Linked DNA regions of Homo sapiens: all the other regions are linked to region 2. The links come from fine-mapping of genetic effects on gene expression. A gene starts in region 2. Each other region holds a variant in brackets. All regions are shown on one strand. Distances are from middle to middle. Region 1 overlaps LOC107985792 (a long non-coding RNA gene). Region 2 holds the start of TP53I3 (tumor protein p53 inducible protein 3). Region 3 overlaps FKBP1B (FKBP prolyl isomerase 1B). Region 4 holds the start of PFN4 (profilin family member 4). Region 5 overlaps MFSD2B (MFSD2 lysolipid transporter B, sphingolipid). Region 6 overlaps ATAD2B (ATPase family AAA domain containing 2B).

Evidence for each region. PIP is the estimated chance that this variant, and not a neighbour inherited with it, causes the effect.
Region 1: its variant is fine-mapped to the expression of TP53I3 in coronary artery (GTEx, PIP 0.99).
Region 3: its variant is fine-mapped to the expression of TP53I3 in monocytes (TOPMed, PIP above 0.99). The same link has a PIP of 0.9 or more in prefrontal cortex.
Region 4: its variant is fine-mapped to the expression of TP53I3 in whole blood (TOPMed, PIP 0.99).
Region 5: its variant is fine-mapped to the expression of TP53I3 in whole blood (TOPMed, PIP above 0.99).
Region 6: its variant is fine-mapped to the expression of TP53I3 in whole blood (INTERVAL, PIP 0.93).

Annotation. Positions count from the first base shown.
Region 1 is chr2:23,089,178-23,094,443 of GRCh38, forward strand. It overlaps LOC107985792 (a long non-coding RNA gene), which reads right to left. Exons shown (of 9, transcript NR_171639.1): 2 at 1,570-1,671. Among named protein-coding and RNA genes, the nearest start is that of KLHL29, 290 kb to the right of the region's middle. The variant T/G (reference allele first, on the strand shown) is at 2,940.
Region 2 is chr2:24,082,501-24,087,565 of GRCh38, forward strand. It overlaps TP53I3 (tumor protein p53 inducible protein 3), which reads right to left and starts at 2,334. Exons shown (of 5, transcript NM_004881.5): 1 at 1,689-2,334; 2 at 385-652. The coding sequence starts at 1,826. It also overlaps a transcript of FAM228B not described here. RefSeq lists enhancers at 46-976, 1,572-1,671, 1,822-1,871, 2,619-3,119 and a silencer at 1,882-2,061.
Region 3 is chr2:24,061,564-24,066,829 of GRCh38, forward strand. FKBP1B (FKBP prolyl isomerase 1B) reads left to right here. Exons shown (of 4, transcript NM_004116.5): 4 at 1,501-2,118. The coding sequence ends at 1,629. Among named protein-coding and RNA genes, the nearest start is that of SF3B6, 12 kb to the right of the region's middle. The variant G/A (reference allele first, on the strand shown) is at 3,165.
Region 4 is chr2:24,121,541-24,126,806 of GRCh38, forward strand. PFN4 (profilin family member 4) reads right to left here and starts at 1,794. Exons shown (of 5, transcript NM_199346.3): 1 at 1,578-1,794; 2 at 879-1,007. The coding sequence starts at 995. FAM228B (family with sequence similarity 228 member B) reads left to right here and starts at 1,929. Exons shown (of 11, transcript NM_001145710.2): 1 at 1,929-1,993; 2 at 2,790-2,920. The coding sequence starts at 2,822. RefSeq lists a silencer at 1,861-2,360 and an enhancer at 2,431-2,680. The variant A/C (reference allele first, on the strand shown) is at 2,683.
Region 5 is chr2:24,011,842-24,017,107 of GRCh38, forward strand. It overlaps MFSD2B (MFSD2 lysolipid transporter B, sphingolipid), which reads left to right. Exons shown (of 14, transcript NM_001346880.2): 2 at 1,444-1,569; 3 at 4,315-4,439; 4 at 5,004-5,127. Among named protein-coding and RNA genes, the nearest start is that of MFSD2B, 4.4 kb to the left of the region's middle. RefSeq lists enhancers at 4,230-4,785, 4,786-5,266. The variant T/C (reference allele first, on the strand shown) is at 2,469.
Region 6 is chr2:23,817,850-23,823,115 of GRCh38, forward strand. It overlaps ATAD2B (ATPase family AAA domain containing 2B), which reads right to left. Exons shown (of 28, transcript NM_017552.4): 17 at 1,898-2,033. Among named protein-coding and RNA genes, the nearest start is that of ATAD2B, 110 kb to the right of the region's middle. The variant T/A (reference allele first, on the strand shown) is at 2,123.

The DNA.
Region 1 (5,266 bases), 990 kb before region 2:
CCTTAAATCATCTCTCTCAAGTTCTAAGTTCCTCAAATCTCTAGGGCAGGGGCAAAATGCTGCCAGTCTTTTTGCTAAAACATAACAAGAGTTCTACTTTTCAACAAGTTCCTCATTTCCATCTGAGTCCACCTCAGCCTGGACCTTATTGTCCATATCATTATCAGCATTTTGGTCAAAACCATTCAACAAGTCTCTAGGAAGTTCAAAACTTTTCTGCATTTTCCTGCCTTCTTCTGAGCTCTCCAAACTGTTCCAGCCTCTGCCTGTTACCCAGTTCCAAAGTCACTTCCACATTTTGGGGTACCTTTTCAGTAGCACTCCACTCCCAGTACCAATTTACTGTATTAGTCCATTTTCACACTGCTGATAAAGACACCCAAGACTGGGCAATTTACAAAAGAGAGGGGTTTAATGGACTTACAGTTCCACATGGTTGGGGAGACCTCACAATCAAGGCAGAAGGCAAGGAGGAGCAAGTCACATCTTACATGGATGGCAGCAGGCAAAGAGAGAGAGAGCTTGTGAAGGGAAACCAGTTTTTAAAACTATCAGATCTCATGAGTCTATTCACTATCACGAGAATAGCAGAGGAAAGACCTGCCCCCATGATTCAGTTATCTCCCTCTGGGTTTCTCCCACAACATGTGGTAATTATGGGAGTTACAAGATGAGATTTGGGTGGGGACACAGAGCCAAACCATATCAAGGTTGAAGCTGACTTTCATATAATCTTGCCTGAGGCTCCATATGATGTGCATATATGCGTCTTGTGTGCAAGTGCATATGCATGTTGAGAGAGGGAGAAGAGTGGAGGGGAAAGAAGAGGAGGAGAGAGGAGGGGAGACATTATGGTTAATATTGAGTGTCAACTTGATTGGATTGAAGGATTCAAACTATTGTTCCTGGGTGTGTCTGTGAGAGTGATGCCAAAGGAGATTAACATTTGAGTCAGTGTACTAGGAGAGGCAGACCCACCCTCAGTCTGGTTGGGCACCATCTAATCAGCTGCCAGTGTGACTAGAATAAAGCATACAGGAGAAGATGGAAGAGCAGACTTGCTGAGTCTTCTGGGCTTCATCTTTCTCCCACACTGAATGCTTTCAGCCCTAAAACATCAGACTCCAAGTTCTTCAGCTTTTGGATTCTTGGACTTATGCCAGTGGTTTGCCAGGGGCTCTCAGGCCTTTGGCCACAAACTGAAGGCTGCATTGTCAGCTTCCGTACTTTTGAGACTTGGACTGGCTTCCTTGCTCCTCAGCTTGCAGGTGGCCTACTGTGGGACTTCACCTTGTGATCCTGTGAGTCAGTACTCCTTAATAAACTCCTTTTCATATATACATCTATCTTATTAGTTCTGTCCCTCTAGAGAACCCTGACTAACACAAAAAGGCAGAGGAGAGGAGAGCAAAGGGGAGGGGAGGAGGAGAGGGGAGGGGAGAAGAGGGGAGGGGAGAGGAAAGAGGAGGAGAGAAAGAGGAAAGAGGAGGGAAAACAGGAAATGGAGTAAAGGATCCCCTCATATCCCACAGAACTTCCCTTAACCTCGTGGCTCCTCAGCCCACTCACCTGCATAGAATCCTGTTTCATCAGCATCAGAAGGTGAAGATTGAAATCATATAGGCTCAATTTCTTTATGTATTCAGTGATAGCAGCTCCCAGAAAAGAAACCTAAACAGAAGTGAAATATTAATTCTCCCACAAGTACAGGTGTCTCTTGGCACAAATTTAGCATGAACACCATCACCAGATGCACCCCCATTGCTGAGGATCCGAGGACTTTGGTCCAGGTTTGGATGCTGGATCCTAGGAAGACATGGCTGAATCTGTAAATAGAAAATCACAAATCAAGAGATTATTATCCAAAATTTGGATGACTAGGTGGGTTCATTTTGTATACCTGGAATTCTCACAGGACAATTTCATTAAAAAGAATAGCAACTATGGTGTTACTGTTGACTACTGTCAATTTTTTTTTATTATAAAAACACATCAAGACCTGATTATTCATCTGGAGTGATAAATAAATAAATAAATAAATAAATAAATAATTAAATAAATAAATAAAACTTTGAATGATACCCCTTCAGTCACACCACAAGGCCCAAAGTCTGCAGCCTGGCACTCAAAGCTACCAAGATAAATCTCTAACCTACCTTCCCAGTCTCATCTCTCAATACTTGTACATAATGTTTCTTCTACTTCAAAGTACTTGGTATTTTTTCATGATCAATCTCCTGTGATTTCCTACTGCCTTGTGGTTCACACCATACCTTTCAGCTAGAGACCCACTTCCTTTCCATTTGTCCATGACCAAGTTATACCCCTGCCTCAAGGCCCATCTCAAATGCAACCTCCTTTCTGAAGATATCTCCTTTCAGCCCCCAACAGAGCAATATCTCACTCCTCCTGTAAACCCCATATGTAGACAGTAATTCATCAAACTTGATAGTATAAATAATAAAAACTTACAGTAAACTCATCTAACAAATATTAAATCCCAATTATTTGCCAGACACAATATTAAATACTTAATATTTATTGATTCACTTAATTAATGATTTTCATATATGTTTTGTGTTCCCCAATGCCTGATGGCAGCCTTTAGTCTAAATCATATTTCTCTGCTATAATCCTTAACATTATGCCTAGATACAGTAAATTATCAATAAATGCTTATTGAGTATAAATTAATTAATGTACAATATGTGAATATATAAATGAATGAATGAAGCAAAAGGATGCCTGTTTAGAGGCACAATTTCCAAGACCATTAGGCAGAGCTTCTGGATTTCTATGCATATTATATGAGTTCTTTTCCATTCTCAATAAGATTCTAGAGTCTCATATAGCAAATCACAACAAGCCTGCAGCTACGATGTGTGGATGGTGAGCCTTTTGCATAGGATCATGAAGAGGACTCCTAGCGTTTAATTCTC[T/G]AAATTACACTCACCCCTTCAACAAACCAGAAAACAGTATAGCAATCTTTTATCCTTTCTTTCCTGGCCCACTCTCCCTAGCTCTAGCACCCAGAACTTTTACGTTTTTCTGTCCCACAGTAAGTGACGAACTAATTCAAACATACACAGGTGTACAAGAAAATAAATCCTCTTCCAAGGGTGCTATAAGTCTTTGAGGTCAATGCTTAATGCAAAGGAATGGAGTGATTTCAAACATCAATGAGGAGAAAAGAAAGTATAACCAGAATTATTGCATGGCTAGTCCCTGTCCAACTTTCTACATATATTATCTCATGTAATTTTTACAGTAATTTTATTAATTATAGTGATGATAATGTAGCACTTACTGTATGCCATATACTCTCCTAAGAATTTTTCATGTAATATCCCACTTAAGTCTCCCATCAACATTTTGAATAAAGTACCCCTTTCACCTTCTTAAGAGATGAGAAAACAGCCATAGAAAATTTAAGTAACTTGTCCAAGATCCCAAAGTAAAGAGTAGACCCAGAATGTAAACCCAACTTAGAAGTACACTCTACATCTTCTCAGGGTAGTAGTTTCCCAAACATATCTGTACAGCAGAAGTTGGTTCTCAGAAAGTTTACCAGGCACAAAGTCATGTACCTAGGAAACATAAATACTGGAATTCAAATCTTAATATTTTTATTTCGATGTGAATGCTTTTTAGTAAAACTTATTTCAGCTCAGGTGTTCATTCAGGGCAGCAAAGGTGTCCTGTATAGGGCTTCTCAACTCATAAGACCATTCCTGAGAATAAAAGTAATCATTTTGTGTGCTACTAAAACTTCCCCAGGCAGGGTTTTGCTTCATGCATCCCTGCCCCTAATCTCCTCTATCCATGGTGCTGAATTTAAAGACAGCATAGCTGGCCTAAAGAAAGAACTGACAAAATAATCTGAATCTCTATGGTAAAGGATCTTAAATACGGCTCTGCACCTGGCCATTGAGAACCAGTGAAATCTTTTCCAAACCTCCCGCTTTAAGCCCAGAATCTCTTTTCTGTCTTCCAAGATCATTAAGTTGAAAAGGGTAAAATAAGTGAGGCTTACGATTAACAAGGATTGTTCAAACCAATATCTTTTCAACTTCATAATTACAAAGATTATGTTATCTGAAAATAAATCAATGAAAGGAGAGCAAGAGAAAGTCTATCTCATAAACATCAATGCAGATCTAACAAAAGTTCAAACAAAAAAAGGAATCAGAGACTAGAGACCCTGAAGCAGGTTCGAAGCTACAGCACTGGGCCAATGGAGGGTGTGAGGCTAGTGCTGAGAACAAAGGCTTGAGACAGAGAATGTCTTTATATCTGGTGCTGAATTGATTTTCAAGCCATAAAAATGTTAGTTAAGGTAACACTGACATGAACTAGGGCAGGGTGGGGGGAAAAGAAGTTGGAAAAAGCAACTGCAATTTCAGGCTTATGAGAAATGGAATTAAAGTTAAGAGAAGGAAGGAAATCTATTGTTTGTCCAGTAACTGGCAAACAGAACAGCCACTGCATCATTATAGTGGCAACGACCTGCTGTGTTCATTTGTCTCTGAGCTGTCTGACCTAGGAGCTGGATGATTTATCTACTTTCCACAGCTTCAGCTGGGCCAGGCCAAGAGGATAACTTGGAGAAAAGGGTGGAGGTGTGGGGGTGGTGACACTCAAGCACCAAGCCAATGAACTCCATATGTCTTGTATTAGAGGGCATGCTCATAAATCAGCCAATATCACACATTTATTTCACACCTACTATAAACAAATCTCTGTGCTAGAAGGCCTCTGGTCATACAAAGATTGAAAAGGGCAGAGCCATTGGCCTTGAAGAGCTTACAATCTAGTGGAAAATATTAAGCATGAAGAAAACTAATTAAAAGCGTATGCTAGATGATGGCTAGAGACAGCAAGAACTATCAGAATACAGAGGAGGACTGTTGACTTTCTTTGTCAGGTAAGGCTTCTGAGAGCAGGCAACACCTTAATTGAGCTTAAATAATAGGATATGCAGTCAGAAAAAAATGGGAGTAAGTGTTGCAGGATGATAATTCAATTAACAAAGCCTCAGAGGCAGGAGTGGGTCAATTATGTTTTGGTGGGAGCAATATTGCCTATCCTTCCCAAATTCCTAGATACAAGGTAGATAGTCTCCAGGCTCTCCATATTCAGGGAGAGAGTTGAGGCAGCAGGGAATGCTCAAGGATCTGTACATCACTTTTTCAAAAACTTGAATGACTTCCAATATAAAAAAATAGATTTCTAGATTTCTGGCCACAGTGGTACATGCTTCTAAGGT
Region 2 (5,065 bases):
GACCAAGTCTTCTTAGATTCCCTTATGTGAGTTCTTGACTGGCCTCTGTGGGATTGAGGAGGAATAAATGAGTCAATTGGTCCCTTCTGTTGCACTGGGACCCCAGAGAGAAGCTCAGTATGATTCTAAGAAGCTGGGACTTCTGCTGGGCGTCCGGTGTTAACATGTACATAGGCCTCCTATCTAGTGTTATCCAGACCCTCTATCTGCTAACCATGATTCTCAGCCTCAACATTAAACCCTTCTAACATGGTTTGAGGACCTGACAATACAGGTGATACAGGAAGGCCTGGGAGTGCCCTGGGGGATTGCTGGGATTCAAGTTGGCTGATTTATGAAGGTGTTGAGCCACATTGTGTGGAGTGAGCATGGAGGCCTCCTCACCCACAAGATGTAACAGCTGGAAGGCGGTGAGCCAGGCCTCTGGGATGGCTGCAGCCTGGGTCAGGGTCAATCCCTCTGGGATAGGCATGAGGAGCCCTTCGGGGACAGTGACGTACTGAGCCTGGCCCCCACCGGGGAGCAGAGCCATGGCTGTGTCCCCGATCTTCCAGTGTCCCTGGCAGCCAGGCCCCAGCTCTGCCACATGTCCAGATGCCTCAAGTCCCAAAATGTTGCTGGCTCCTGGAGGTGGGTCATACTGGCCTTGTCTCTGCAGAGAAAGAAGTGCACTAAGTGGTGAGCATGATCAGAAATCTGTATGTCACTACCCCTGGCCCCCCTTCCAAGATCCCCTCTTTTTTTTTTCAAAAATAAATTTCAGAATGAAGTCAGGTTTTTGTAAGTAAGGAGAAGAAAAAGGAGAGGCCATTAGTTTTATGCAAATAAACTGGAGGTCACATGATCAGTGGATGTTATAACTGGTAGAGTCCTTAGCTATTTACCTCATCTGAACCCCTTGCTTTACAGATGGAGAAACTGAGTCCCAGACGGGAAATAATAGTAGTGGGATTAGGAACCTTGACGATGGTTCCCATGCATCAAGCGCTAGGCTCTGTGCTCACTCACCCCAGTCCTCAGAAGCTGTAGAGCAGAGGGACTTAACCAGGAGTGTGTGGCAGAACCACCTGAGGAGTATTTCAAAGTACACGTGCCTGGGCCCCCATCACGTTTCTTTTGTGCCCCGGGGGATTCTGATGCACATTTCTGAATGACCCCAACCAATGCAGCTGGCCCAGGTCAGTAAATCAGCATCAGACAGAAGAAAATTCTTAAGAGTACTGCCCGCTGTCAGCTCCGGGACTCTCAGAGTGGAAAGAGTTAAGAGGTCTTTGGAGCCACAAAGACCTCAGCTTGAATCCCAGCTCTTCTGATTGCTAGTGTCACGGCCTTGGGCGTACTGCTTAACCTCACTGAACTTCAGTTTCCTTATCTGTAGAATTAAGATGGCGAACAGGGTAGCCTGGGGAGTAAGTGTGCCCACACCCCACAACAATGTTAGTTCCGCCCTCATCTGGAGGCCTGAGTGGCTATGGATTAGCTCGGGGTGGATTCTGCTTTACAAGTACTCCCCCTTGTTTTGCATGAACAAAGAGGGCGCCCTGGGTTTAGGTCTGGGAAGCCCCAGCGCAGCTGCCTGCTGGGTGTGGAGCGGTGCACGCCTTCACGTCTGGTCAATGTCCACTGAGTGCTGTTGAGAGGGAGGCTCTGGAGTCCCGCCCGCCCCGGCGCGGCTGAGCCCTGGGTACCTGCATTAAGTCCGCCCGGTTCAGGGCGCTGGCCGCCACCTTCAGGAGGACTTCACCCTCCCCCGGGCTCGGCTTGGCCACCTCCTTCACGTAGAGGTTTTCCGGTCCTCCCGGCTTGTCAAAGTGCACGGCTAACATATTGTCTGAGGACACAGGGCAGGGCAGGGCAGGACAGGACAGGGCAGGGCAGGGCAGGACAGGACAGGGCAGGGCAGGACAGGACAGGGCAGGGGCCGCTGTATCCTCGCGGAGCAGCCCAGCCTCAGGCTGGCACCGCAGCGCCCCCTGCCGGCCAGCGCCTCGCTGCCCTGGTCTGCCGCGGACCCGGCCTCCGCCCCGAGCTCCTGCCTGGGAAGTCCTCGGCCGCCTCCAGACCGATCCCACCCGGAACACAGATGGGAACGGCGGGAAGTGGGATGGCGGTACAGGGCTGGATGCGGCAGAGCAGGACAACGCCGAAGAGGATCAGGCAAATCACACTCCCTCTGAGTTGGAAGCCCCCAGCCCGACCCGGGTCCCCGGCGCCCGTATGAGTTACTTACTCCTGGCCCGGCTCCCCTCCCATGCACCAGGCGGCGCCGAGTGGTTCTGGCTCCTGCGGGTCCCGGTGACAAAGCCCGAGCCCCAGAGCCCCAGGACTGCCTCTGCCTCCACCGGAATGGACGGCTGGACCTGGGGTAGCCGGAGGGGTGGGGCTAAGCAGAACCACCCTCCCCCTCTTTCCTTTCCTCCTTCCCCCTTTAAAACGCAAAGTTAGAAGCAAGCAAATCAGATTTTCTTGTCCTTTTAGCCTCTGGAAAAGAGTCTTTCTCTCAGCTTGACAGAAAGTGCGATTCTAGCTCTCACTTCAAGGAGAGGAAACTTCCTTCTCTCTAGGGAACGAGACCCAACCTCTTGGCGGGCGGATTGGTCCATTTTCCAGGCATGGCCAGGCTTTTGGCACATTTATGTAACAGGCTGGCATCCCGCCCATCTTGAGCATGGGTGGGCAAGCTGGGTGCTGCTAAGAGAAGAGAAAGGAGCCGTTGGGAGTGGGGGTGGGGAAGGAAGGCAAAACGCAGTCCTGGGATCCTTATCACTCGCCTCCTCCTGACAGTCCTGGGGGAGAGGTTCAGCCCCAGGAGAAGGATGCTGGCGATTGGGTAAAAGCTGTATCCGTAAGCTACATGAAGGTTTCTCAATCTCGGCGCTATTGACATTTTGGACTAGCTAGTTCGTTATTGTAGGAGATCGTCCTGTGCATCGTAGGATGTTTAGCAGCATCCCTGGCCTCCCCCCACTACATATCCGTAGCACTCCTTGTAAATTCCTGTTTTAGTAAGAACCTCCCATCCTTGACATCTGATCACCCTCAATATCTCATCCTCCACCATCCCCCAAGTGATATCCGACCACCCTGGCCTGTCTTCAGTGAGAATCCTGTTAGGTCAGTTTAGATAGAATCCCCCTTACCCCTGATGCCTCTTACCAATTTTCCATCCACTGACCCCCTACACTGCTCCTTGGCTATACATTCCCACTTGTCCGTGATGCATTCAGAGTTGATCCCAACCTGTCTCCTCCACTGCAAGAACTCATTGCAGTGGTCCCTAAACCTGTAGCGATGGTGCTAAATAAAGTCTTCCTTAATGTGCTTTAACAAGTATCATTGAATAATTATTTCTTTAACACAACAGAGCAAAAGCCTATAGAGATGGAAATAATAAAATGATGGGACTTAAGGAAAAATTCAGGAGACCCTGCTATGAGAATAACAGGAATTTTAGGCCGGGCGCGGTGGCTCACGCCTGTAATCCCAGAACTTTGGGAGGCCAAGGCGGGCGGATCACGAGGTCAGGAGATCGAGACCATCCTGGCTAACACGGTGAAACCCCGTCTCTACTAAAAATACAAAAAATTAGCCGGGCGTGGTGGCGGGCGCCTGTAGTCCCAGCTATTCGGGAGGCTGAGGCAGGAGAATGGCGTGAACCCGGGAGGGGGAGCTTGCAGTGAGCCGAGATCGCACCACTGCACTCCAGCCTGGACGACAGAGTGAGACTCCGTCTCAAAAAAAAAAAAAAAAAAGGAATTTTAGAAGGAGGAAGAGGAATGGATGAAGAAGATTCAATAGTTAACCAAATAAAAGAATACAGTTTTCCTAAATTCTACCAGATTATACGGATTGAAAACATTCACTAAAGGATGGATTCATAAGAACAAAAATGCATGCCTATATTTTATAAAATTTCAGGTTCTAACAAGTGTGGAAAGAATAAGTTACTCACAATTGGTTAAAAAAAATGGCTTCCTTCTCTCCCTCCCTCCCTCCTTCCTTCCTTCCCTCCTTCCCCACCCCCTCTTTCTCTCTCTCTCTTTTTTGTAGTGTAGGGGTCTCATTATGTTGCCCAGGCTGGTCTCAAACTCCTGGACTCAAGCAATCCTCCTGCCTCAGCCTCCCAAAGTGCTAGGATTACAAGTATGAGCCACTGTGCCCAGCAAGTTTCTATCTGCAATCTGGAAGCTAGAAGAGAGTAGACTAGCGTCTATTGACTAGAAGAAAAGCACTGTAACTCAATATACCCCATTAAGATATAATTCACTTGTTAGGGCAAAAAACATGTCTGAGGATGTATAAGGATTCAGAGACACATCATCCGGATACACATCTGTCCAAAATCGAGGAAAGGTTTGAACCAAATAAATATCCTAGAACAGAGACAGATGGAAAGGAAATAGTTGTAAATAACAAACTTTGCAAAAATCGACACTAAAACTGATTGGATTAAGAAAATGGAATGGATTAAGATAGATGAGGAATGTGTAATGTAAGTGCTAAATAAGAACTTTTAAGATGCAAGGAGTAACTTTAAAAAAAATCTAATAATACCAACCACTAAGTATACTAAAGTATCCCAGTAAAACTAGTAGTTGAAAGTGCCTAAGATTTTATCTTAGTGAGCCCTTGGTCGATGTAATCTTGCAGTGTGTAATAAGAAATATATATTTTTGGTCTTTGTCCTGGGTTCCTACAATAGCACTCCTAAAACCTTTGTTATTTGCTGAATAAACATCTCTTTCTTTCTTTTGTTTTTAACTAGATATACGGTCTTGCTACGTTGCCCAGGCTGATCATGAACTCCTGGACTCAAGCAATTCTCCCACCTCAGCCTGTAAAGTACTGGAATTATAGGCATGAGCCACTCTGCCTGGCCAATAAGTATCTTTTATTATATTTTGTTCTCCTGCAGAGCTCCTAAAACCCTTGGAATTTCGTATGTGATAGAAGTGACTTTTTATATTAATAACAAACCCTTATAAGCACACTCGAGTTTATGCTAATATGACTTAGGGTGGGGGCCCTAGATAGCTTCAGGATGAGCTGGTCACCAGAAAGACCC
Region 3 (5,266 bases), 21 kb before region 2:
TTTGAAAAGAATTTCAGAATTACAAAAATATTAAAGAAATAGTACAGAGTTCTTCTATATTCTATCCAGCTTCCCCTTCTTGCATAACCATAGTACAATTATCAAAACCAGGACATTCACACTGATACAAATTACTTACTTATTCAAATTTTTGATTATTCAAAATTCAAAAGTAGATTTAAATTTCACCAATTGTCCCACTAATGCTGAGTGGGTTCTCAACAACTGCTGTGATGAGCCCTGGTTCAAGCTGTTCTTTCTTGGTCTGTCTGTGAAGTCCTATGATGCTCCCTTACGATAGGTCTTGTTTTTGGTGTTTTTTTTTAGAAAGAGTATCACTCTGTCACCAAGGCTGGACTGCAGTGGCGCAATCTTGGCTCACTGCAAGCTCCGCGTCCTGGGTTCACGCCATTCTTCTGCCTCAGCCTCCCTAGTAGCTGGGACTACAGGCGCCCGCCACCACGGCCGGCTAATTTTTTTGTATTTTTAGTAGAGACGGGGTTTCACCGTTGTTAGCCAAGATGGTCTCGGTCTCCTGACCTCGTGATCTGCCCGCCTCAGCCTCCCAAAGTGGTGCGAGCCACCGTGCCCGGCCTGTTTTTTGTTTTTTATTTATTTATTTATTTTGAGACGTAGTCTCACTCTGTTGCCCAGGCTAGAGTGCAGTGGCACAATCTCAGCTCACTGCAACCTCCTCCTCCCAGGTTCAAGCAATTTTCCTGCCCCAGCCTCCCGAGTAGCTGAGATTACAGGTGTGCACCATCACCATCACGCCTGGCTAATTTTTGTATTTTTAGTACAGACGGGGTCTCACCATGTTTGCCAGGCTGCTCTCGAACTCCTGACCTCAGGTGATCCACCTGCCTCGGCCTCCCAAAGTGCTGAGATTACAGGTGTGAGCCACCACGCCCGGACTTTTTGTATTTTTTAGTAGAGACAGGGTTTTGCCATATTAGCCAGGCTGGTCTTGAACTTCTGGACTCAAGTGATCTGCCCACCTTGGCTTCCCAAAAGTGCTGGGATTACAGGTGTGAGCCACCACGGTTGGCCACAATAGGTCCCCCTTGCCACCTTGCTGGTGACTCTAGTCTCTAAACCACTTTAAATAACTGCCCCTGTCACCTACTTGAGTATTTACGTGTGCTATTCATACACCCTCTTTTCCTAAAGAGGCCTATTCTTTGGAAGAGGGTGAACTATGAACAAATGGAAGTGTTTCAGTCATACACAAATTGAATAACCAGTAATGTTTGTCAGATGCATGAATTTGAGACCACTCTGTGAGGGTTACTGCCCCACAGTCACATCTCTGCTGAGGCAGAATCTGCGTTTGTTAAAGCTGTTAGCACGATTTCAATGTATCCCATGTAAAATTCATCTGAGATCTTCAGAGTTAACATTGAGGATGGTTTGGGAAAATGCCATAGTCATCTAACTTTTTTCTTTTAAATCAAGCTGGGTCCTCTTTCTCCTCTCCCCATCTGCCCCCATCCCTGCTAGATGAGCTTGGGGCAGAGGGCGAAGCTGACCTGCACCCCTGATGTGGCATATGGAGCCACGGGCCACCCCGGTGTCATCCCTCCCAATGCCACCCTCATCTTTGACGTGGAGCTGCTCAACTTAGAGTGAAGGCAGGAAGGAACTCAAGGTGGCTGGAGATGGCTGCTGCTCACCCTCCTAGCCTGCTCTGCCACTGGGACGGCTCCTGCTTTTGGGGCTCTTGATCAGTGTGCTAACCTCACTGCCTCATGGCATCATCCATTCTCTCTGCCCAAGTTGCTCTGTATGTGTTCGTCAGTGTTCATGCGAATTCTTGCTTGAGGAAACTTCGGTTGCAGATTGAAGCATTTCAGGTTGTGCATTTTGTGTGATGCATGTAGTAGCCTTTCCTGATGACAGAACACAGATCTCTTGTTCGCACAATCTACACTGCCTTACCTTCACTTAAACCACACACACAAGGTGCTCAGACATGAAATGTACATGGCGTACCGTACACAGAGGGACTTGAGCCAGTTACCTTTGCTGTCACTTTCTCTCTTATAAATTCTGTTAGCTGCTCACTTAAACAATGTCCTCTTTGAGAAAATGTAAAATAAAGGCTCTGTGCTTGACAAACTCCTGTCCATCCTTATTTTAGGTAGGAAGTGCTCTAAGGACCACACAAGCCAGGTGCCCTTGGGAAAGAGTGGAAAGAAAGGAGGGTTCCAAGTGGCTAGGTGAGTGATAAATATAATAGCTACAATGTGAGCATTTTACATGCTGGGCCTTGTTCTACATACTTTTTTATTTTATTTATTTATTTATTTATTTGAGATGGAGTCTCGCTCTGTCACTCAGGCTGGAATGCAGTGGCACAATCTTGGCTCACTGCAACCTCCGCCTCCTGGGTTCAAACGATTGTCATGCTCACCAGCACGCCTGGCTAATTTTTGTATTTTTAGTAGAGACAGGGTTTTGTCATATTGGCCAGGCTGGTCTCAAAACTCCTGACCTCAACTGATCTACCTGCCTTGGCCTCTCAAAGTGATGGGATTACAGGTGTGAGCCACTGTGCCTGGCTATATACTTTTAAATTATTACCATTGATCCTCTAAGCAACCCTGCACAGTAGATATTACCTGCCGCTCATCTCAGGCTCAGAATCCTCCTCTGCATAACTAAAGAAATATAGGCTCCAAATCTTGTAGCCTAGCAATCAGATGTGGGACTTGAGCACCTTATGTGCTCTTGCAATCTTTGTTTGGACTACAGCCAGAGGGATGAGCTCCACTCACCCAGATGGATACAGAACACTTTTTGTGTCTAAACAAATGAAGGTGTGTTAAGGGCTTGAAGTCGTACACTAACTCACATTGGGAAGTTCCTTGTGAAAAGAGTGTGTGATTCTGAGCTTGTTTTCACATACACTGCTTAGTTTCACCTAGATTTGTTCTGACTTACATTGAGGAATTACTTTTGAGAAGAATGTATGATTCTGAACTTGTTTCCACATATAGTGCTTATTTCATCAACATTTATTGTAACTAACCAGAAACACCAGTTAGGTTTTAAAATCAGCACACTTATTGGTGTAGGTTATATATAGGCCATAGGAGACTGAGGCAATATACTCAAACATTTTTCTTTTTTTTCTTTCTTTTTTTGAGACGGAGTCTCACTCT[G/A]TTGCCCAGGCTGAAGTGCAGTGGCATGATCTCGGCTCACTGCAAGCTCTGCCTCCCGGGTTCACACCATTCTTCTGCCTCAGCCTCCCGAGTAGCTGGGACTACAGGTGCCCACCACCACACCTGGCTAATTTTTTGTATTTTTAGTAGAGACGGAGTTTCACCATGTTAGCCAGGATGGTCTCAATCTCCTGACCTTATGATCCGCCTGCCTCGGCCTCCCAAAATGCTAGCATTACAGGTGTGAGCCATCACGCCCAGCCTCAAACATTTTTCTTTCAGTTGGTATAGGATGAGAAAAACTCCTGGCCATAGTTGGGGTTATTCTTTTTTTTTTTTAATCATTTATTTATTATTTTTAAAAAATAGAGATGGGGGAATCTCACTATGTTGCCCAGGCTGGTCTCAAACTCCTGGCCTCAAGCTATCTTCTCTCAGCCTCCCAAAGTGTTGGGATTATGGGTTTAAATCACTGCACTCAGCCAATACGGTTTTCTATCAGTGACGACTTCGAATTGTTTCAAGATTGAGGACGGAGGGGCTGATAACAGGTACTGTTAGTGTTCCTCATAGACCCACTGATACATGTCACATGATGTCATATATATGCTATGAGGCCATGTCATCTTGGCTACATGATCTACCTTTTTTGTCTCCAAGAAATCCTGGCTGTATTCCTTTGCTGAGGGTGGAGGAGCTAATGAAGAAGCAGTGCTTTAGGATGGAGAAAACGAGAGAAAGGAACTGCCTTGCATTTTAGTCACCAAAGTCCCTGTGCTCACCTCTATTGTGAGACTAGACCAGCCAGAGGGTATTTCCTTCAGAATGTCTTGGTTCCTGGCTTTCTTTGATGACTCAAATGCCTACAATAATTTCTCAGAAGTCAGCCTGCATAAAAGACATACGCATATTTTCTGCTGTGACACCAATAAGATAACAAAAGATGGCATCAAGGACTATTTCAGGTGCCCACTATGGGGCATATAAAAGATATTGGTCTAGAGTATTTATAACTGAGGTGGGTCAAAGGAGACACCCACTAAAAGAACTCCCCCAAAGTGCAAACACATACTGGCTAGCACCTGGAGAGGACAGGTGAGGCTCTGCAGGTAAACTGGGAAATGAACCATTTTACTGGAGCTCTTAAAAGATGATGCAGAAAATCATGATGCAGTATGCTAATGAGTCTGGACATTGGCCTATGAGAGCCACTAAAGCTGTTAAACAGAAGAGCAATAATAAGATCAAGGTCACATCAGTTGTTTTCAGACTTTCAGTCAATGAATTCTCTATTCCTACGAATTTTTTTCTTAGAAACTCAAAAATTTAACCCAGATGAAAGTAAAGCAGCTCTGGCACATGTGTGTGCACATATAAACACAGTCATCTGTTGCACTCTTAAAAGCATTTGAAAAATTGAGCTTTGGATGCCTTGCACAGAGGACCGATCATAATTATATCCTCAGCATCTTCGTACAGTACTGTGTGCAGAGTGGGAGTCAGTGTTTGTCCACTGAGTGCAAGTTCTTGTAACTTAATTGCGACAGGATATGGAATTTCCAAACAATTAGAGGGAAGTTTTAAGTCTTAACTTTAGGTCATGAAATTCAGCTAACAGATATATCAATCCAAATGATGGACTGGTCATGACTGCTAATAGAAGGAATTTCTCCTTGTTATTAAAACAACTACACCAGAGGCAAGCTAGCCTGCCACTTAGACAAATCACACTCTAAGTTTTAAAGTCTAATTTCAGTTTTTCTCTTACAAGAAAGTCTTTTAGAAAATTCTTTTTACATTACCTAAAGGCACACCGTGCATTACAAAAACTAATAATGCATTCATAAAAGCATTCAAAAGAAAATTACAGCTGTAGCTCCTTTCTTATCTTCCCACCCTTAGAAATGACTCTACTCTCTTACACTGCTTTCAAAAAACACTCAGATATAATTAAAAGCAGAATTGATGCTCTTTGTACATTGAAGTGATTCAGTGTATGTACCTTCAAATTGATTTTAGGTTCCAATCACACACAAAACAATTAGTCCATGTTTTTCCATTTGGTCCATGCCTAAGCAATAAAAAGCAAATTACGGCTATAT
Region 4 (5,266 bases), 39 kb after region 2:
TGTATGGCTGTTTTTCCTCTACAATTGCAGAGTTGAGTGGTTGTGACAGAGACTCTACGGCCCTGTGCTATAGTTTGAATCTCATGTTGAAATCTGATTCCCAGCGTTTTCGGTGGGGCCTAATGGGAGGTATTTGGATCATGAATAGACTGATGCCCTCCCTGCGAGCTGGGGGAAGCTGTGAGTTTTCACTGTATTTGTTCCAGGAGAGCTGGCTCTTAGAAAGAGCCTGGCACCTCTCCACTTGCTCTCTCTTGCTTCCTCTCCCCCACTGTGATCTCTGCACATGCTGGCTCCCCTTCACCTCTGCCATGAGTGGAAGCAGCCTGAGGCTTTCACAGATGACCAGTCTTCCAGGCAGTAGAACTGTGAGCCAAATAAACCTCTTTTCTTTATAAATTACCCAGCTTCAGGTATTCCTTTATATCAACAGTAAAAAGACTAAGCCTAGAAACCTAAAATATTTATGTAGCTCTTTACAGAAAAAGTTCATTTAAAAGTCATGTCTGGGCTGGGCACGGTGGCTCATGCCTGTAATCCCAGCACTTTGGGAGGCCGAGGCAGGTGGATCACCTGAGGTTAGGAGTTTGAGACTAGCCTGACCAACATGGTAAAACACCATCTCTACTAAAAATACAAAAATTAGCCGGGCCTGGTAGCGCACTCCTGTAATCCCAGCTACTCGGGAGGCTAAGGCTCAAGAATCGCTTGAGAGGCGGAGGTTGCAGTGAGCTGAGATCATGCCATTGCATCCCAGGCTAAGCAACAAGAGTGAAATTCCGTCTCAAAAAAAAAAAAAAGTCATGTCTGCTTCATTTTTTGGAAGAATAGAAATAATAAGTAAATCAAGTCTTAGGTCCAAACTTGTTTTTTCTTACATTGAAACCTGGTGATGCTACACACAAGCTCCGCTCCTGGATTTTGATGAGGGCTGCACTGTCCACATGCTTGGTTCCCAAGAGGGTGTCTAACAATAAGCTCTGCAAATGGCTCATGTTCCCTCAACTCTGAAAGGGAAAGTGCAGTTGAAGCCATTGACTCTGGCTAGCTTTTAAAAGGCATGTGAATACAAATGTCCTTAAGACACTGCAGACAGTTCTAAGATCAGCAAGTGTACTTTGAAAAGGTACAGGGTGAAAACGGTGGTCCATCATTCAGGGCCCACCAGTACCCAAAGAGGAAAACAGAATCATAGAAAAATCACAGCTCACACAGAATAGGTTATGAAGCTGAGTTTGGAAAATCACAGCCTGGTGATTTTCTGGCTATGTCAATGGTTTACATCAGGATTATCTGCGATTTAAAAACAAACATTACACACTGAGAAAAACTCTGTAAAATAAAAAATAAAAACAAAAAACAAAACCCAGCCAGGATGGAGAGCTACCCTGCTAAGTTAAACACGACTAAAAGAGATTATGCGTGGCCATAAACCCACACATTCCCTTCCCGGTGACCTGCATCAGCGCCAGCTATGAACGCTGATCAACATCCCAATGGACTAAAAACACCTTGAAGGCACTTAAACCCACATTTCCCGCACAAGTCCCCAAGCCTTGGACCCCCCTCATCAGGACCTCCGGCACAGGCGCCCGTTTCCCGCCACTGCCTTCCAGTGGTTTGGTCCCCGAGCAGGACCCAAGGCGGGGCAGGGGGTGGTGAGCGGTGAATTCCCTGGCACCGAGGACTCGAGGGAGCGGACGCCACCCCGCTCTGTGGTGCCCGCAAGGACCCGGCGACCAAGGACCCGACCGTCAACGGACGCGGTTGCGGGTGGGTGGCGGCGGCAGGATTGGCCGGGCCACGCGCCGGTCACCGAGAAGCAGCGACTCCAGCCCCTTCCGCAAACCAAGACCCGCCACCTAGAGCCGCCGCCCAATCCCCTTTGGGCCTGAAGCCGTCCTCCGCCGCCCCGGCACCGCCCGCGCGGACTCGCTGTGGAACCCGCGGCGCAGGGGGCGGAGTGCTCGCGCGGCGCTGCGTCCGGGAGACGGTGGGCGCCAACATTCGCGCGTTCCGCAGACGCGGGCGGGCTCCCTTCCAGCCGCAGTCGGACGGCTCCGGGGTCGTCGGGCCGGGCCCGAGTGTGTAGCAGGACGGCCGCGGGCCTGCTGGCCTTGGGAGGGCAGAGAGGTGCCTGTCGCGGCCGGCGACCTCCCCGCCAGGCCGGGCGGTCCCCGCGCACGACGCGCCTGCGCGGGAGGCCCCCGGCCCGGGGCTGGCGTGGAGGCCGCAGGCGCCCGGCCTAGTGGGTGGGAGGAAGGGCCGGGAGTGGGCGCGATGAGCGAGAGCGGGTGCGGACGCCTACGACATCCCCGTCGCACCCGTGCCTCGGGGAGGACTTCGAGCCGCTCAGAGCTCGAAGACTCGCGCAGTATGACCGAAAGCCCCTCCCTGCCTTCTCTAAGCAGCTCAGCCTGTGTTTCTGTGGCCAGAAAGTTGCAGTTCTTCCCACTCGAGGCCACCAAAGTCAGAAAAGTGTTGCAAATGGGACTCCGAGAGGCCAGGCTGAAGCTGCCACACTGGCTGGAATGGGCTGCCTTGGAGGGGGACGTGGGAATCCATTCCAAGGGACGGGGGATTCTTTCAAAGAGCATCTCGCCTGCTTATAAAGGAGGCTGGCTCTGAAGCCGTCATCTGGAGTCTGTAGTGAAGGCCTCTTGTTAGGGAAACTGGATGGTT[A/C]GTGTTCAAAATCCATTTTGCGTGTGTGCAAGGACACAGGTGGTATTAAACAGAAGAGAAAATCAGATGACTGTGAAATGTTCAATACTAAATAAGATGATTTTTAGTTTTTCCAGGGGCATTGTTATTTGTGACCACAATGAAAAATGTAGACAGTGATGATCTGGTAACTGGCACACTTCCCAAGCTCAAGAGCTCAAAAGAATGGTTGGAGCCCAAGCCCCTTTGTTTTATGGAGGTATATATCAAATAGTGTGGGATTTGGAGATTTTTTTACTTGGATCGTTGCAGTAGGAAGTGGCTTGTGCTAAATATATTGTTTTTTCTATTGTTTGTTTTTATTTCATTCTGTTTATTATTCCCTTCACTTTACTAACTTTGTATATTCACTTTGCTGTTTTTTTCTAACATCTTAAGGTGGAATCATAGGTCATTGATTATATACCTTTTAAAATGTAACATAGCTATAAGTTTCTCTTGAGGTACTGCCTTAGCTGCATCACCCAAATTTTGATATGATGTATTTATTTATTTATTTATATTTGAGACAGGGTCTTGCTATGTTTCCTCCTGGAATCAAGCCATCCTTCCACTCCCTAGTAGCTGGAAGTATAGGCGCACGCCACCATGTCTGGCTAATTTTTGTATTTTCTGTAGAGATACAAAAAATCTCTACACTGTGTCGCCTAGGCTGGTCCCCAACTCCTGAGCTCAAGCAATCCACCTACCGTGGTGTTCCAAAATGCTGGGATTATAGCTGTGAGCCCTTGCGCCCAGCCAGTTATATTGTTTTTAGATTGTAGTTTCTTTTTTCTAAACAGCTTTATTAAGATGTAATTGATATACAGTAAACTGCATATATTTAAAGTGTGTGTCTGGCACTGTGCCTCATGCCTGTAATCCCAGCACGTTGGGAGGCTGAGGTGGGAGGGTCGCTTGAGCCCAGGAGTTCTATCTAGACCAGGCAGAGCAATATACTGAGACCCTGTCTCCACAAACGAACGAACAATAATAGCCAGGTGTGGTAGCATACACCTATAGTCCCAGCTGCTTGAGAGGCTGAGGCAGGAGGATTGCTTGACCCCAGGAATTTGAGGCTGCAGTGAGCTGTGATTGTGCCACTGCATCCCCACCTGGGTGACAGAATAAGACCCTGTCTCAAATAAAGTGTACAAACTTGGTAAGTTTTGACATGTATACACACGAAAACATCACCACAATCAAGATGGTGGACATATTCAGTACTCCCAAAGCTTCCTTAATATTCTGTTGTAATCCCTCCCTCACATCCCCCCACCACTGCTTTTCTTTCTTTCTCTTTCTTTCATTCTTTCTCTCTCTTTCCTTTTCTTTTTCTTTTCTTTCTTTCGCTCTATCACTCAGCCAGGAAAACACTGGCGTGATCTCGGCTCAATGCAACCTCTACCTCCCGGGTTCAAGTGATCCTCCTACCTCAGCCTCCTGAGTAGCTAGGATTACAGGCCTGCGCCACCACACCTGGCTAATTTTTTTGGATTTTTAGTAGAGACGGGGTTTCACCATGTTGGCCAGGCTGGTCTCAAACTCCTGACCTCAAGTGATCTGCCCGCCTCGGCCTCCCAAAGTGCTGAGATTATAGGTGTGAGCCACTGCGCCCAGCCTGCTTTGCTTTCTGTCACTCTAGTTTGCATTTTAAAAATTGTATACAAATGGAATCTTACAGTATATATTTCTTTTCCTTCTGTTTGTCTTCTTTCACTCATCATAATTATTTTGCCACTCACCCATGTTGTATGTATCAATACTTCATTCCTTTTTTGGTTGAATGCTATTCCCTTATCTGGATATATCCCAATTTGTTCATCCTGTTTATGGACATTTGGGTTGATTCCAGTTTGGGGCTATTACAAATAAAGCTGTTATGAACATTCATGTGTGTGTCTTTGTATGGACGTATGCTTTCATTTCTCTTGGGTAGATATTTAGTTGTGGAGTGACTGGGTCATATGGTAAATGAATTTAACTTTATGAAGCTGCCAAACTAGTTTCCAAAGTCATTGAATTATTTTACATTCCCACTAGTAGTGTGTGAGAGTTCCAGTTGTTTCATAATCTAGCCAACATTTGGAATAGTTTTATTTATACTGATTTATTGTATGGCCTTTTTAACTCAAGACATTTTAAAAAGATGTATAGTGACATCTCATTGTGGTTTTAATTTGCATTTCCTTAATGACTGATTATGAGCATCTTTTCAAGTCTTACTTGCCATTTATCTATCTTCTTTGGCAAAGTGTTTGTTCAAATCTTTTGCCCACTTTAAAATTGGCAATTTTAAGTTGGGTTGTTTGTATTCTTACTGTTGGACTCTTCCTATTGAGATATAATTTACATGCCATAAGATTCACTACTTTTTTTTTTTTTTTTGAGACAGAGTCTTGCTCTGTCGCCCAGACTGGAACGCAGTGGCGTGATCTCAGCTCACTGCAAACTCTGCCTCCCCGGTTCACGCCATTCTCCTGCCTCAGCCTCCCAAGTAGCTGGGACTACAGGTGCCTGCCACCACACCTGGCTAATTTTTGTTTTTGTATTTTTACAAAAAAAA
Region 5 (5,266 bases), 71 kb before region 2:
GGTGAGAGGTTAGGGAATGCCTCTTGGAGGAGGTGACATTTAAGCTGGTGACATCAAACCAGAATGACAAGGAGTCACCTTCCAGGCAGAGGAATGGGAAGGGCAAAGGCCCTGAGGCAGCAACAGACTTGATGATTTTGAGGAATAGGAAGGAGCCCGGCGTGGCTGAAGGAGAGCTATTTGAGGTGAGGTGGGTAGGGGGCCGACTGGGTGGACTCCTTAGCCATGATCAGGACTTGGAGTTTTATTCAAACTGCAATGGTATTGACTGAATACCATGGATCTGGAAACAAACAAACAAACAAACAAAACACACACACACACACACACACACACACAAAAACAGACAAAAAAACCCTGCAATAGCAAGCCATTGGAGAGTTTTAATCAGAGAGGAGATGGGATCTGATTATTTATTTATTTATTTATGACTGAGTCTCTGTCACCCAGGCTGGAGTGCAGTGGTGTGATATTTGCTCACTGCAACCTCTGCCTCCCTGGTTCAAGCAATTCTCTTGCCTCAGCCTCCTGAGTAGCTGGGATTACAGGCGGCCACTATGCCTGGCTAATTTTTGTGTTTCTAGTAGAGATGGGGTTTTGCCATGTTGGGCAGGCTGGTCTTCAACTCCTGGGCTCAAGCAATCCACCTACCTCGGCCTCCCAAAGTGCTGGGTTTATAGGGATGAGCCACTGTGCGATTTATGTTATTACAAGAGCACTGGCTGCTGGGTGGAGTGGATTGTAGGGAGCAAGGGCAGACACAGAAGCCACTTAGGAGGCATTCACTGATAGACAAGAACTGGAAAGAAGAATAGATGACTCCTAAGTTTGTGGCCTGAGCCACTGAGGGGACCAGCGGTGCCATTTGCTAGGAGCTGGATTAGACAATGGAATGGCCATCAGGAGCTGTATGTAGACCATGCTAAGCTGAGACGCCTGCCAGGCATCCCTGGAGGGCTGTGGGTAGGCAGGCTATGGGTAAATGAGCTATCGCCTCATTTACTCATCGAAGAAACAACTTTGTGAAGTTGGCAGGGATGTTGCATTTGACAGATGAGGAAAACAGGCTTAGAGAGATGATGTGATTTATTCAAGGTCACATAGAGGGGTAGGTGACAAAGGCAGGCTCAAGCCCAGGTCTCCTGACCTGCAGCTTACACGGCCGTGCTGACTCAGTAAATGATGGCGGCTTCAGCAGGAAGCCCAGGGTAAGATGTCCAGAAGAACTTCCCCCCTGGAAATGTTTAGAGGTCAGGGTTTAGGATCTTTTTTCTCTTCGTCTCACTTCCTCTTAGGATGACATGGGGGCAAAATGGGGCTGAGAGGTTGCTGGAAAAGCCCTGAAGACATCACAGAGACTCAGGATGTTTACTGAAGTCATGGGGTGTGGGGACCTGTTTTGTGTCTGTTGGGAGAAGGGCTTAGTTCCTGTGTCTCCTCCAGGACAGCAGAGCCGGTCGCCTCTCATTCTGTACAAAGGTGTGCTATGGCATTGGTGGGGTCCCCAACCAGATAGCCTCCAGCGCCACAGCCTTTTACCTGCAGCTTTTCCTGCTTGATATAGCACAGGTAAGTGTGGGCAGTAGCCCAGTCTCTGCTGGCATCTTCCTTGGGGTCTGGTCCTTCCACCCCCACCTCTGCTTCTGCTCCCACTATCCTTGTAGACAGCACTTCTGACACGAGCTCAACAAAAAGCCAGAAGCCAATGAGGGCAAGGTACTCAAGAATGTTTACTGCAGCCTGTTTGTAGTGGGAAAATGAGAAACAATGTAGATCCCCGACAATATAGAAGCAGTTGGCTAAGTAAGCTGTATCATAGCCACATAATAGACCAAGCCTGTCCAACCCGCGGCGGGACGGCTTTGAATGCGGCCCCACACAAATTTGTAAACTTTCTTAAAACAGTATGAATTTTTTTGTTTTTTTTTTTTTTTAGCTCATTAGCTATCATTAGTGTTAGTGTATTTTATGTGTTTATATGTGGCCCAAGACGATTCTTTTTTTTTTTTTTTTTTTGAGACAGAGTCTCACTCTGTTGCCCAGGCTGGAGTGCAGTGGTGTGATCTTGGGGCTCACTGCAACCTCTGCCTCCCAGGTTCAAGCGATTCTCATGCCTCAGCCTCCCGAGTAGCTGGGATCACAGGTGCACACCACCACACTCGGCTAATTTGTTGTTTGTTTTTTTTTTTGAGATGGAGTCTCGCTCTGTCACCCAGGCTGGAGTGCAATGGCATGATCTCGGCTCACTGCAACCTCTGCCTCCCGGGTTTAGCAATTCTCCTGCCTCAGCCTCCAGAGTAGCTGGGATTACAGGTGTGTGCCATCATGCCTGGCTAATTTTTTGTATTTTTAGTAGAGACAACAGTTTCACCATGCTGGCCAGGCTGGTCTTGAACTCCTGACCTCGTGATCCACCCACCTCAGCCTCCCAAAGTGCTGGGATTATAGACGTGGACCACCGCGCCCAG[T/C]CTACAGCTAATTTTTGTGTTTTTAGTAGAGACGGGGTTTCGCCATGTTGGCCAGGCTGGTCTCGAACTCCTGATCTCAGGTGTTCCATCCACCACAGCTTCCCAAAGTGCTGGGATTACAGGCGTGAGCCACCGTGCCTGGCCAAGACAATTCTTCTTCTTCCAGTGTGGCCCACAGAAGTCAACAGACTACACTAACATCACTATCAAATAGACTATCATGCAGCCATTCAAAATAATGATCTATACCAGTTGACTTAGAGTGATTTCCATGATGCTCTGGTGAAAAAGAAAAGTTAGTTTTAGAGAAGAGTATATAAAATGATCCCATTTTAACAAAACAAAGACAGGCTCCATATGTGTGTGTGTGGATGGATATGTATATATACATATGTATCTGTCCATGTTTAAAATGTGAGCATGGAGAAAATTCTAGAAGGATATACACCAACTCGTTAATGTTGGCTACCGGAGGGAATGATGGAGAATGGAGGGTAAGTAAAACCAAATTTTTAAAATGAGGTATCCAGCCGAGCATGGTGGCTCACAGCTGTAATCCCAGCACTTTGCGAGGCCGAGGAGGGAGGATCACTTGAGGTCAGGAGTTCAAGACCAGCTTGACCAATATGGTGAACCCCATTTCTACTAAATATACAAAAATTAGCCAGGCGTGGTGGCACACGCCTGTAGTCACAGCTACTCAGGAAGCTGAGGCAGGATAATTGCTTGAACCCAGGAGGTGGAGGTTGCAGTGAGCTAAGATTGCACCACCACATTCCAGCCTGGGCGACAGAGCAAGACTCCCTCTCAAAAACAAAACAAAAACCAACAACAAAAAAATGAGGTATCCAGCCGGGTATGGTGGCTCACACACCCAGCACTTTGGGAGGTCAAGGCGGGAGGACCGTCTAAGCTCAGGTGTTCAAGACCAGCCTGGGCAACATGGCAAAACTCCACCTCCACAAAAAAAAAAAAAATTTAAAAATACAAAAATTAGCTCGGTGTAGAGGAACGTGCCTGTGGTCTCAGCTACTTGGGAGGCTGAGGTGGGAGAATCACCTGAGCCCAAGAGGCAGTGGTTGCAGTGAGCCGAGATGGTGCCACTGCACTCCAGCCTGGGCAACAGAGCGAGGCCCTGTCTCAATTAAAAAATAAAATAAAATAATAAAATGAGGTATCCACGAATGTTTAAGATGACAGTCTGATATGATCCCATTTATATAAACTGATCAATCTCAAGCACACATGAAGAAGCCTATGAAAGGCTGATCATCCAAACGATTCTGGCAGTTGTCTTGGGATGCTGCGATTTCAGATGAGCTTTGCTTAGTATTTTCCTGCATAGTTTGAGTGTTTTTCTAATAAGTGTATTATTTACATAGTCAGAAAAAACAATGCATCCTTTCCATTGTGAAACACAGTGTCCACCTCTGTCAGCCCAGAGGCACCCTCCTTGCTCTGAGCCAGAATGTTTTTCTAATGAGTGTATTATTTACATAGTCAGAAAAACCAGTGAATCCTTTCCATTGTGAAACACAGTGTCCACCTCTGTCAGCCCAGAGGCACCCTCCTTGCTCTGAGCCAGCCCCAGATGAGGGCCCTGGAGTCCTCTCCGCAGTGGCTGACATGAGTACTAATGGGAGTGTGCAGGGCGGCAGCACTCAGCTCCCTCCCCTGGACTCAGCCCCGGGATCAGCATCCTGGGGAAGGCTGAGGAGCCCTTGACACTGTGGCTCTGCCCTCCGGTCCCGGTTCCCAGGCCTCCCTCTTGATGGCAAGCAGGCCTGGATGGGCTCTCTGCTGCTGCTGGGCCTCAGCTCTCTATCCCCTCCCCTGTCTGTTTCAGATCCCTGCCGCCCAGGTGTCACTTGTTCTGTTTGGGGGAAAAGTGTCTGGGGCGGCTGCTGACCCTGTGGCTGGGTTCTTCATCAACAGGAGCCAGAGGACAGGGTCTGGACGGCTCATGCCTTGGTGAGCAACCGCTCAGTCCTTAGGATCCAGGCACCTGGTCCTGGCCCTGAGGTCACTGTTTGTCACAGCCCTATTTCCTAGCAGAAACCCACTGGGTGGTTAGGAGACAAGACTGGATAATATCGCAGGTGCACTGGGGACTGACTGTGAGTGATAAGGAGTTCAGAGACATTCTTGGGGACTCTCCCTCCCCAGATGGCACGGGGCTGGATGAAGCCTCCAAGACTCCCAGGCCTGGCCTGGGGCACTGAGTGTGGGAAGGCTGGGCTGAAGGCCATGCGAGGCCTCACGGAGGAAGTACAGCTCAGTGTCCCAATGTCCACACAGGGAAGGGCACCAGCAGCGCTGAGAGTGCAGCTGGAGCTCCCACGAGGAGTGGCCGCCCATTCCCCACTGCCTCCATGACCCATCGGCCACTTCTCCCCTGCTCCTGGCTCCCACCCAGGGCGCCCCAGCCTAGGGATTCTCAAGGGGCAGAGAAGGGGTGGGGTTCCTCCAGGCTGGGCCCTTTGTGTTCCCCTGTCTGGGTCGGGGGGCCGCTCCACCTCGGCTGTGCTTCCGCAGGGTGCTGGGCTGCACCCCCTTCATCGCCCTGGCCTACTTCTTCCTGTGGTTCCTGCCCCCCTTCACCAGCCTGCGAGGCCTCTGGTACACGACTTTCTACTGCCTGTTCCAGGCCCTGGCCACGGTAAGCAGGGCCCCTTCCTGGGCCTGTGCTCTGGCGAAGCCCATTGCTGGCCATGGCCACTCTGAAGTGTGCTGTGGGGGCAGGGCTGCCGCCCTCCCCACCCGCCTGTGCCTGGACCATGCCATTGGCACTCGCCAGC
Region 6 (5,266 bases), 260 kb before region 2:
CAAAATGAGCCATACCAATGTTTCACATTAAATCAGTGGCAGGAAATGTCCTCAATAAAAAGTCAAACTTAACACTGTACATGATACTTTCTAATATCAAAATCTATTTCTGTATTCCTTTATTGACGACAATTATCTTATAAAATTAAACACGTCTTTTGATACTTACTTAGTTTCTGCTACTACATAATACAAATCCAAATAACTATAACTGTCAAACACACATAAACACACACACACACACATTACACACACACACACACACACACACATTACACACACACACACACACAGAGAGAGAGAAGGAGGGAGGGAAGAAGAGAGGGAGAGGGAGAGACGGAGGGAGGGAAGAAGAGAGGGAGAGGGAGGGAGGGAAGAAGAGAGGGAGGGAGGGAGGGAAGAAGAGAGGGAGACGGAGGGAGGGAGGGAAGAAGAGAGGGAGGGGGGAGAGAGAGAGAGAGAAAGAGAGAGAGACAGAGAGACACAGACGCACAGGCTAGCCAGGTGAAAAGCAAAAAAAAAAAAAAAAAAAAAAAAATTGGCTTTCCCATAACTATCAATAAAACAAATCTGTAAAATGCTGGAATAGCCTATAAAAAAACTTCCCCAAGAGCATAAAAGAAAGGATCTGGAGAAGAAGAAAAAAACTTACAAAGAGTTTGCTATTAAAGAACATATGAAGAAAAAAAGAGGAGATGAAAGTAATTTAGGCTCATTTTTAAAAATGAAAAACAAGAAAGGGTTATCAATGCAAATAATCAAATCAACATTTCACCAAAATCTACATGGGAAAACTTCAAGTTGGAGACTTAAATTTGTTCAAAATATTAAAAGTACACACAATCCGGCCTCTTCTAATAGAAGTGCTATTAGATCTACCTGACTGAAGCTTTATGGTCCTTCAACTATGGGGCTAATTATGTAAATGCAAGTAAAGATGCTGTTAGTATTTGAAAACTATTTGGCCTCTTAATTTAAAATTACATTTGCACTAAAAGTGTTTACCTATTATAGTGCACAGCAAAACTTGCTTTAACACAGATAATAAAAGGGTAAATGTAAATTGAAAAATCATAAAATCCAAATTATGCAAGTATAATGTTTCTAGAAAATCAAAAAGTTATTTAATTACTGAACAATTTCTAAATCGAAATCTCTTTAGCAGCCTTAGAGACCTAAATGATCATCTAAAGTTTATTACAAATTAAAGTATTCCAGATCATGGCAAATATTTCATTTCTGCCCATTTTAGTTTAAAGAAAAAGCAATAAAGTTGGGGCTCATGAGTTGACTTTCTAAGGGTAAGCTTTCCTCTGCCTCCATGGGGGAAAAAATTTACACCATTACTTTAAAAAAAAGTAAACTTAGCCAGGTACAGTGGCATACGCCTATAATCCCAGCACTTCGGGAGTCCAAAGCGGGAAGAGCACCTGAGATTCGAGACCAGCCTGGACAACATAGTGAAACCCCATCTCTACTAAAAATGCAAAAATTAGCTGGGCGTGGTAGCGCACACCTGTAATCCCAACTACTCAGGAGGCTGAGGTACGAGAATAGCTTAAACTCAGGAGGCAGAGGTTGCAGTGAGCCAAGATCATGCCACTGCACTCTACCCTGGGTGACAGAGTGAGACTCTGCCTCCCAAAAAAAAAAAAAAAAGTAAAGTAGCAGGAAAGATTCTTCTACTTGGAGAAAAAAACACCTAGGTAGTTAACCAACAAACTAACTATTACCACATGAAAAAGAATACATAGTAAAAGTTTTCCAGAATTGTGTCCAAACAACAGAAAAACAATATCCTCACAGTTATAACCATAAGTAAAAATATACCATAATTCTAATCATAAAGTATCAAAAATCACTCTAAATACAAAGAAAGTTGATATAAATCACTCACATTGTAAAATGAAGGTAGGGTTTATGTATAGCAGCAGATGATGACTGTTTCTTTGGTGATCCTGAGTGACAATTGGTCTCAAAAATTGATAAAGCATTTTCATCTTCACTATCCTCTAAAATTAAAGTTTCTATATCTGTTTAAAAAAATCACAATGGTTATGGGGCTTATAAAGTCATTTAATATTCGTGCCCTACCAAAGCTAAGAAAAATTGGGTTAAAAAA[T/A]CAAATGACATTAATAAGTTATCTATCAAATAATACAGGCAAACTGACAAACTGCAGCTTTTAAAATAACTTATAAACAAAATTAATATAACACTTTCACCTTTACAGACTATTTACTTAAGTGTTATGAGATATAATTTGGAAGAACTCACTGACTGGCTTAAAAAAAAAAAACAAGTCTGGAAAAGATGTGGCACTCTCATAAAATCCCACCTATTTAACTAAAAATCTCTGAGTTAATTTTGACCAAAACCAGTCCATTTCATATTTGGTTTAATTAGTAGGTTAGCTGAGTCAAGGCCAGTTCTTATAAAAGCAACAAGGAACAAACTGACCCTTATTTTTTAAAGAGGATACACCTTTTCAAAGAAGTCTTAGTGTAGTTAAGATGGAGTCAGAAATTCCGTCAAAGCTAATCTTAAAAATACACTCATTCATACAGCATTATTCTCTCTGTGGGCCTTAGGTTATCACTCAGGGAACTAACTGGAACTAAAATCTCTACTGAGAATGCAACACTTAAAGCCTTACCTGGACTACCACCTGAAGTATGAACAGCTGTTGCTATACTTCAAACATGCCTAATTAAAACTGACAATTCATTCAATAAAAAGCAATGCTACATGTGTACGGGATATGAGAGAGAATTAAGATTAAGAGAAATCATATCCTTTCAAAATAAAAAATATACAGATGCATTCTAAAATGAGATGCTAAATTATGCTAGCAGATAGAGATCTCAAGTGGCTTTTAAAAGCTAAACATTTAATCGAGACCATCCTGGCTAACATGGTGAAACTCTTGTCTCTACTAAAAATACAAAAAAATTAGCCGGGCGTGGTGGCAGGCGCCTCGTAGTCCCAGCTACTCGGGAGGCTGAGGCAGAAGAATGGTGTGAACCCAGGAGGCGGAGCTTGCAGTGAGCCAAGATTGCGCCACTGCACTCCAGCCTTGGTGACAGAGCCAGACTCCGTCTCAAAACAAAAAAAAAGCTAAATATTTAGTACAAGTCATAGTTTAATCTGGGAAATAACTGAGTATCTTTTGAGTGATAATTTCATACACAAGGAAATATTTATCTAAGAAAAATATTAAAGGTCAAAACAAGCCAGAATAAATATGACTAAATAGCTAAAAACCAATTATTGATAATCAAATAAAATTTGGTTGCTCTTCTCCACTGGTTCATGGCAACTAGTTCTACCAACTGGAACTAAAGCATACTTTATATTTACACACAAAAAAAGCTATAAGAAAACATAGATAATAATGCTATAAAATGGTAATTCACAAATGGAGATAAAAAGCTATGATAATCTCTCCAAAGGAAAGATGAGGTTTTTATGATTTTCTAAAGGTGACGTAAGTTTTTTGGGACGTTTTGGTACATAACATATATATGAAATACATTTCCAGTTATGAAATTCAGAAATAAAAAATACACAAATCATGGCATCGTGCCTGGCTCACAGATATTCAGTAAAATATTCATTCCCCTCTGTCTGCCAAATTTAAGAAATCAGGTATTCCATGTGGTATCTTATGTGAGTCTGTCACTAAACAATTAAAGTTTCTGAAAAATATATTTATGACAGAAGAATTCATTGAACAATATTCATAATTTTTACTATATATATTTTTAATGTTAGTATAATTCTCTGAATAATTTTCTATTTGGTGCAGACTGCATTCCAGACAAGGTGCTAGGAACTGCAGAAATTAAGATAATCAAAAGACATTACTTTCCCTTCAAAGTTTATGAGCTTTATACTCTGATTAGAATGTCAATGTAATTTTTAAATGTTTTTCCTGTAAATGAGTGATGTTTTAAATTTTATTTATTTATTTTTGTTTTTAATTTTTTAAGAGACAGGGTTTCACCATGTTGGCCAGGCTGGTCTTGAACTCCTGACCTCAGGTGATCCACCCGCCTTGGCCTCCCAAAACGCTGGGATTACACAGGCGTGAGCAACCGCACCCAGCCATGAGTGATGTTTTTAAAGGTAGTTTTCTGTTTTTATCTCAGGTGCAAAGTACAATCTGAGGCTTGACAAAACTCAAGATCCTCTAAAATGAGGTTCTTATTTACTCCCTTACCAATACCTTACACTCCTATGAGCACTGCACACTGCAGAGTGTCCTACCAATAACAACAAAATGATTAGTTTAATCCAAAGAAGCATTATAGCAACATAGGTAAGAGCAAGGGCTGTCATCAGGCTCCCTGGGTTGAGGCAGTCCCCAGAACTTATTGAATGACCTTATATTAATTAAATTACCAGGCTGGGCGCGATGACTCACATCTCTAATCCCAGCACTTTGGGAGGTCAAGGCGGGTGGATCACCTGAGGTCAGGAGTTGGAGACCAGCCTGATCAATATGGTGAAACCCCATCTCTACTAAACAAACAAACAAATACAAAAATTAGCTGGGCGTGGCGGCACACGCCTGTAATCCCAGCTACTTGGGAGGCTGAGGCAGGAGAACTGCTTGAACCTGGGAGGCAGAGGTTACAGTGAGCCAAGATCAGGCCACTGCATTCCAACCTAGGTGACAGAGTGAGACTCTGTCTCAAAAAAAATAAATTACCAGCCTACATCTCCCACTCCCCTGCTCTATATAATCAGAGTGCTTACCTGCAAGCCTGTTAAGAGGATTAACAGGCCGGGCGGGGTGGCTCACGCCTGTAATCCCAGCACTTTGGGAGGCCAAGGTGGGAAGATCACCTGAGGTCAGAAGTTGGAAACCAGCCTGGCCAACATGGTGAAACCCTATCTCTACTAAAAATACAAAAAAATTAGCCGGGCGTGGTGGCAGGTGCCTGAAATCCCAGCTACTCAGGAGGCTGAGGCAGGAGAATCGCTGTACCCGGGAGGCGGAGGTTGCAGTAAGCCAAGACTGCGCCATTACACTCCAGCCTGGGCAACAAGAGCGAAACTCCATCTCAAAAAAAAAAAAAAAAAAAAAAAAGGATTAGTAAGTGATGATTTAGGGGCTTTAAAGGTTAACCTATTATTATTATTATTACAGTCAACTTTCTAAAGATAGTAATAGCCCTACATTAAGATGATCAGAATGTCCCAAAAGTGAACATTCATTCATTTGTCTTAAAAACATTCACCAGGCAACTACCATATGCCAGGC